Homo sapiens: one gene and its partner. The protein of the gene in region 1 interacts with the protein of each later gene in a biochemical or structural test. Each region holds a gene or a part of one and is shown on either strand. Other genes may lie near its edges.

Evidence for each region.
Region 2: the proteins of CLDN4 (region 1) and TJP1 form a complex in vitro, tested with the Homo sapiens proteins (2 studies listed by BioGRID and IntAct, with this or other methods).

The regions. Positions count from the first base shown.
Region 1 is NC_000007.14:73,828,709-73,832,622, forward strand, and holds the start of CLDN4 (claudin-4), read left to right. Parts: upstream 1-2,287; 5' UTR 2,288-2,493; coding exon 2,494-3,123; 3' UTR 3,124-3,914. UniProt on the Homo sapiens protein: Can associate with other claudins to regulate tight junction structural and functional strand dynamics.
Region 2 is NC_000015.10:29,710,720-29,714,633, reverse strand, and holds part of TJP1 (tight junction protein 1), read left to right. Parts: intron 1-2,223; coding exon of another isoform or gene 2,224-2,274; intron 2,275-3,633; coding exon 3,634-3,803; intron 3,804-3,914. UniProt on the Homo sapiens protein: TJP1, TJP2, and TJP3 are closely related scaffolding proteins that link tight junction (TJ) transmembrane proteins such as claudins, junctional adhesion molecules, and occludin to the actin cytoskeleton.

The DNA of each region.
Region 1 (3,914 bases):
GCTGTGATTACAGGCGTGCGCCATCACACCCAGCTAATTTTTGTATTTTTTAGTAGAGATGGGGTTTCACCATGTTGGCCTAACTCCTGACCTCGTGATCTGCCCATCTTGGCCTCCGAAAGTACTGGGATTACAGGTGTGAGCCACTGCACCCGGCCCAAACATTTCTTTTTCTTTTCTTTTGAGACAGAGTCTTGCTCTGTTGCCCGTGGCTGGAGTGAAATGGTGCGATTATAGTTCACTGCAGCCTCAAACTCCTGGCCTTAAGCGATCCTCCCATCCTGGCCTCCCAAAGTGCTGGGATTATAGGCATGAGCCGCAGCAACCACTCCTCACATTTCTTGAGCATCTGTGATGTATCAAGCCAGATGCTGGGCACTGAGGTTGCAGAAGGCATTGTTCCTGTCTTCTAGGAGCCCCAGGCTAGCAGGGAAGACGGATGTGTATAGAGTTAACCACAATACCAGGCCTCAACTTCCCGTCTGTAACACAGGTGGACCATGCTAGATTGTCCCAGCCTGCCCTGTGCTTCATTAGCCGGTCAACAGATCCATCTCAAATACCTCCCATGGGTACTCACTGATTGCTTTAACCCAAACCATGGCACTCTTGAAGACTTTCCCTCAGGAAGCTCAAGGACTATGCATCCTTCTGGGTCAGAACTGGACACACAGCCACCAGTGCTGGACAATGGCGGCGGCTCAGGGACACACTGGAGCCCTGGCCCCTGCAGAGCTCCCAGCATGGTTGGGAAGAGAGATGCAAAATGACCACACGGCGGGTGAGGAGGAGCTCCCTCGGTGCGGCTGGGATGAGCCCTAGACACTCTCAATCACCCCCACGATGACCCCTTCCCAGAGGTCCCCTCAGTCATCTGCCCTGAACCAAGCTCTTCCTGATCCTAGACCCTCCACCCTCCCTCTATCTTCCAGGGCTTGGTGACATTCCAGGCAGAAATTTCTGACCCTTTTACTTTGGTCCCTCCCTCCCCAGCCCAGTCTCTGGTCAAACTGGATTCCTGGCTGTTCCCAGAACGAGCTGCCTTTCCCCACCTTGCCACCTCTGCCCTTGTTCTCTCTGCCTGAATGTCCTCCTTCACTAGCCTCGCTGCCTTGCACATCTCTCCTGAGGGCTGTCATCCCAGAATGAGCTGCATTTGTCCAGCCTGGCCCACCGTCTACCAGAACGTCCTCCTTCAGCCTGTCCCACTGCCTTGCAAAACTTTTCTGGGGGACCTGTTCACGATGCCTTCTGTAGCATACTCCAAGAATCCGGCGCCCCCTGGAGTTGTGCCACACAGCACCCCTTTGCAGTCAAGCTCCCTCAGCACCACCACCTCCACCCTGGAAGAGTTCCCCTTCCCTTTGAAATCTCATGGGACTTTGCACCCACTCTGGCTTTATTGGAAGGCTTTGTATGTCTCCACAGGGTAAACACCCATTTACTGGGGTGATGATGTCTCCAGGATCTAGTTCATGTTTGTCGTTGGTGACTGGCCCCACCCAGTTCTGGGCAAGCAGGCTGGATCCCGGCAGGAACAGAGCCCACCAGCCTAAACTTCCATGGAGGTGGAGAGGGGACAGGCTTCTGTCTCTTTTTGGCTGAAGGTGCATCATGTCCAAGGCCCCTCTTCTAGCCAAGCAGAGAAGCTGGGTGATAAGGATGGGTGAGAGTGGGTGATGTACCCCGGAGTCCTGGCCTCCCGGCTCCTCACTCCCCTACACGTAACTTTATCCGGCCAATGCCGCAAAGACTGCTGGTGAGGCCAGATGCATGAGTGATCATACTCACAACAGTCGTGAAACTGCCAGTGATGAAACTGGTAAGGACAAGAAATGACAATAATCAAGGTGGGGTTTCTCGTGGACGTTTCCAAGACTTCATTCTCAAATTCTCTCCCTCAGGGTCCCCACCCTGTCCTCCCACCTAAGCCTGGAATGAGGGGGCACTGGCCTGTGGGGACCCTGGTCTTCAGGCTCCCAAACCTGGCTGGGTCTGGTTGCCCCCTGGCCTTAACCTGTGAACATCCAGCTGTCCCTGGGCTGTGATTCAGTGTCTGTCTCCCGGGTGACCTCAGCATGGGCTTTGAGGAAGGGGAGAGAGTAGTTTCTTCTGAGACTGGATAGTGACTCAGGGACCCGGGGCTGGGGCCTCAAAAGTGCCTTTGTTGGCCTGGGCTCAGGAATCCAGAGAAACTGGTCAGGAGGAGGCCCCAGTGACAAAAACCCCTCCCTCTGCCCCCGCCCCTCTGCCAGAGCCATATAACTGCTCAACCTGTCCCCGAGAGAGAGTGCCCTGGCAGCTGTCGGCTGGAAGGAACTGGTCTGCTCACACTTGCTGGCTTGCGCATCAGGACTGGCTTTATCTCCTGACTCACGGTGCAAAGGTGCACTCTGCGAACGTTAAGTCCGTCCCCAGCGCTTGGAATCCTACGGCCCCCACAGCCGGATCCCCTCAGCCTTCCAGGTCCTCAACTCCCGTGGACGCTGAACAATGGCCTCCATGGGGCTACAGGTAATGGGCATCGCGCTGGCCGTCCTGGGCTGGCTGGCCGTCATGCTGTGCTGCGCGCTGCCCATGTGGCGCGTGACGGCCTTCATCGGCAGCAACATTGTCACCTCGCAGACCATCTGGGAGGGCCTATGGATGAACTGCGTGGTGCAGAGCACCGGCCAGATGCAGTGCAAGGTGTACGACTCGCTGCTGGCACTGCCGCAGGACCTGCAGGCGGCCCGCGCCCTCGTCATCATCAGCATCATCGTGGCTGCTCTGGGCGTGCTGCTGTCCGTGGTGGGGGGCAAGTGTACCAACTGCCTGGAGGATGAAAGCGCCAAGGCCAAGACCATGATCGTGGCGGGCGTGGTGTTCCTGTTGGCCGGCCTTATGGTGATAGTGCCGGTGTCCTGGACGGCCCACAACATCATCCAAGACTTCTACAATCCGCTGGTGGCCTCCGGGCAGAAGCGGGAGATGGGTGCCTCGCTCTACGTCGGCTGGGCCGCCTCCGGCCTGCTGCTCCTTGGCGGGGGGCTGCTTTGCTGCAACTGTCCACCCCGCACAGACAAGCCTTACTCCGCCAAGTATTCTGCTGCCCGCTCTGCTGCTGCCAGCAACTACGTGTAAGGTGCCACGGCTCCACTCTGTTCCTCTCTGCTTTGTTCTTCCCTGGACTGAGCTCAGCGCAGGCTGTGACCCCAGGAGGGCCCTGCCACGGGCCACTGGCTGCTGGGGACTGGGGACTGGGCAGAGACTGAGCCAGGCAGGAAGGCAGCAGCCTTCAGCCTCTCTGGCCCACTCGGACAACTTCCCAAGGCCGCCTCCTGCTAGCAAGAACAGAGTCCACCCTCCTCTGGATATTGGGGAGGGACGGAAGTGACAGGGTGTGGTGGTGGAGTGGGGAGCTGGCTTCTGCTGGCCAGGATAGCTTAACCCTGACTTTGGGATCTGCCTGCATCGGCGTTGGCCACTGTCCCCATTTACATTTTCCCCACTCTGTCTGCCTGCATCTCCTCTGTTCCGGGTAGGCCTTGATATCACCTCTGGGACTGTGCCTTGCTCACCGAAACCCGCGCCCAGGAGTATGGCTGAGGCCTTGCCCACCCACCTGCCTGGGAAGTGCAGAGTGGATGGACGGGTTTAGAGGGGAGGGGCGAAGGTGCTGTAAACAGGTTTGGGCAGTGGTGGGGGAGGGGGCCAGAGAGGCGGCTCAGGTTGCCCAGCTCTGTGGCCTCAGGACTCTCTGCCTCACCCGCTTCAGCCCAGGGCCCCTGGAGACTGATCCCCTCTGAGTCCTCTGCCCCTTCCAAGGACACTAATGAGCCTGGGAGGGTGGCAGGGAGGAGGGGACAGCTTCACCCTTGGAAGTCCTGGGGTTTTTCCTCTTCCTTCTTTGTGGTTTCTGTTTTGTAATTTAA
Region 2 (3,914 bases), on another chromosome or scaffold:
GGGAGACAGAGCTTGCAGTGAGCCGAGATCGTGCCACTGGACTCCAGCTTGGGCAACAGAGTGAGACTCTGTCTCAAAAAAAAAAAAAAAAAAAAAGGCTGGGCGCAGTGGCTCACGCCTGTACTCCCAGCACTTTGGGAGGCCGAGGTGGGTGGATCATGAGGTCAGGAGATCGAGACCATCCTGGCTAATATGGTGAAACCCTGTCTCTACTAAAAATACAAAAAATTACCTGGGCATGGTGGCAGGTGCCTGTAGTCCCAGCTACTCTGGAGGCTGAGGCAGGAGAATGGCATGAACCCGGGAGGCGGAGCTTGCAATGAGCCGAGATCGCGCCACTGCACTCCAGTCTGGGCGACAGAGCCAGACTCATCTCAAAAAAAAAAAGGAGTATATTTAGGTCTAAAAAGTAAGTTGTTTTGCCAGGGAATCAATCAAAATGCATGTTTGCTTTCTGTGTTAATTTGTTTTTCTAGAAAGAAGACTTAGCTTATTTGTGATGTATAACTTTAGGGTGTAGAACATTGCCTTGCATGCAGTAGGGGCTCAGTAATTGTTGAGTGAATGAAGCTCAAAACAGGGCATGGTATACTAGGTGCATCCACCACCCTTCTTTTCATTAACACAGCTCTGGAAGGAACCTGTATTACCTGGTCATTGTTTTCACAGGGATATATTGTGAAACAGATGACATCTGTCTTTGTGAATTTACTCAGAACTCAGTTTGATTTTACTCCCTGCTGCTGTGAGAGAGAAAAGTATAGTTTGGGCTGGATACCAGTATACTTTTTTTTCCTTTGTAGTGTGAAATTGAAACTCTTTATAATTGTGCTGCATTTTCCCATATAGGTATTTAATGGTTAGAGAAATGGAAAGGAGAATAAGGGTCATGGAAGATAACTAAGAGGGTAGTTGTTTCTGTAAGTTTCCCTTGTAATGCTTTTTCATACTCTTGTCCAATGAGTACAACTTCATCAACTGGAAAATAGCTTAAAATATAGGATTCTGTCCTGCATTTCAAAACCATTTACTGTTTGTCACTAAATAAGACTGCCTTCAGGCATTTCTTTCTTTCAGTAAATACAGGAGTAGCAAAATTTTCTTCCTTCAGATGATGTGTGCTTATGCTTCACTTAAAAACACACCTCAGAAATGGTGAGAATTAGATATGGAAAATAATCTTTGTTAGCACAGGACAGATGCCCCAGGAAGCAAGCAGATATTACCCAGTCTAACAGTTCCATAGAGCTGGATTAGAACTGGAAAGGTTAGGAGACAGTAGCTTAGACATTCACCTCCAAAGTAAATTAGAAGTTTCCAGGATTCTAAAACAGTGCAAGAAGAGCAGTGTCCCTCCAGGGCTGTGCACATGTCTCAGTCCAGAGATTGAGTCAACTTCTTCAGGACAACCAGGGATTTTTTGTTATCAAATCTACCTTTCAGGACTCAACTCACTATGTGAGACTTCCAGGTCTCAATAAATGATGGTGGTTTGTAGCTTTTAAAGAACTAAATGTGAGAGACTGATGTTCAGTTGTTTTTGTGTTTGTGAGACATCATTAGATGAGAGAGAGCCTGAGCATCAAGCATGCAGCTTCACCAGTAAGACTCCACCACCACAGGGCCCAGCTTACGATTGGAGATGGAGGAGGTCTTGCTAGAAAGGAACATGTGAAGCCTGGCCAGGTTTCAAGCCAGGCATATTTCTATCTCTCCATTTACCATTCCCCTCCCAGGGGCTCAATGTAGCTCTTCTGTTGTGTTACTTTTTCCTGTGTCTTCACTTGCAGAATTTCTTTGCCCAGCCTTTTTTTTTTTTTTTTTAATGGGACATGTCACTCCCACTTATTCAGAACCTGCTAATTATCCTTGATCACCACTCTTTGATTTGATAAATTTCTTTGCTCACTATTAGCAGCTGCAACAGAGGTGGAGAAGGAGCAAAGTTCAAACACATTGCTTTTCACTGCAGTAACAGTTAAAGTACATGAAGGATGGGCCAGCAGACGGGACATAACTAAGTGATTGTGTTTTATTTATCTTCAATTTCCTTGGCCAAATGAGAGTTAGTGATATGTTCCTTTATAGACCAAATTATGGTGAAATGGTGGATGTTGGTTGATATTTTTAAATGACATTTGAGTTCCATTTGCTGCAAATTTACTTAGTTAGATTGACCATTTTCTTTCATTTTTCTATTGCGCTTGCTTTGCCATCACCTAGATTTCTTGGCTCTTACACTAGCTATGACTACTTGAAAAGGAACGTCAAGTGGTAAGACTGGCAATTAATGTGAGGCTGTTCCATAAGGTGTCCCTCACTGTGTCACTGGCATTATGTGCACTTTCAGATTTTAATGTCATCATCAAGGGCTTAGTCTAAATTCATGAAAGCAAGATAAAAAAGCCAATCATAAGACTTCTTCAATGAAAATTTATGAAAATGACCAGGAGTATTCCAAATGTATATGTTATTGTTGGTGCACATAAAGCTAGTGCAGCTTTGGCATTCAGCAGTAAGGTTTAGATGGCAATGTTGCAATTATGGGTCTTTTAAAAAGATTTGTGTGAATTTTGTGTTACATATTAACAATTGGCAATCTGAAAAAATAAACATACATGGCACAATTTGACTTAAATGAACCTTGTAAAATAAAGCAGGATCTGCTGCTCTAGCAGTCATTTAACCAAAAAATGGACCTGGTAACTCAAGGGGAAATTTTAAAGTAAAAGCTCCAGTTTTTTTAGTTTTACTGAAACGCAGATATGCCCATTGTCTGTGGCTGCTTCAAGGCTATAACCGCATAATTTGAATAGTTCTAACAAAGACTGTATGGGCCAAAAGACCACAAACATTTACTCTCTGGTGTTTCAGTGAAAAAGTTTGCCAACCCCTAGTCTGTGACATCTGTTTTTATGGTGCTCCGAGTATGCCAGATGCCAGATACAAAATCAGAAGTGGGTCTAGGGCCGGGTGCGGTGGCTCATGCCTGTAATCCCAGCACTTTTAAGAAGCAGAGGCAGGCGGCTCACTTGAGGTCAGGAGTTCAAGACCAGCCTGGACAACGTGGTGAAACGCCATCTCTACTAAAAGTACAAAAATTAGCCAGGCGTGGTGGCTGGCATCTGTAATCCCAGCTACTCGGGAGGCTGAGGCAGAAGAATCACTTGAGCCTGGGAGGCAGAGGTTGTGGTAAACTGAGATCGCGCCACTGCACTCCAGTCTGGGCGACAGAATGAGACCCTGTCTCAAAAACAAAAAAAGTGGGTCTCAGGAAAATTTGTGCCATGATATGTTTTCAGAATATTTGCAAGACTTTCTTAAATCTGTCAACATTACTATCTTTTGTAAATAACAATTAAACTATACCCAAAATTTCACCTGCCTTTGGTTGCCATCTTCTGGATGTTTTACTAATATTCTTAAAGTTTTTGTGTGTCTGGACATTTCTTGTGCCGATGAATGGTCGAATCTGTTTTTATATTTTGGTAGAGTAGCTACCCATACTCATGAGAATAAATTGTGAAATTTCTAGTTTTTTTTTTTAACTTAGAGATACATGGAGAAATGAGAACTTGTTTTGTAAATGTGAGTCCATTTTCAGGTGTTGGCATTTTCTTCATTTGTTAACAGGGGAAAGCCTCCTGAAGCTGATGGTGTGGATAGATCATTTGGCGAGAAACGCTATGAACCCATCCAGGCCACTCCCCCTCCTCCTCCATTGCCCTCGCAGTATGCCCAGCCATCTCAGCCTGTCACCAGCGCGTCTCTCCACATACATTCTAAGGGAGCACATGGTGAAGGTAGGAAGTTCGGAAGTAGACATTTTAACACAGTAATGCTTATGAAGTAAAATTCTGGTGGTTTCTAGGCAAAATGGTTTTTACATTAAAAAATACATGCTTGAAACCTTT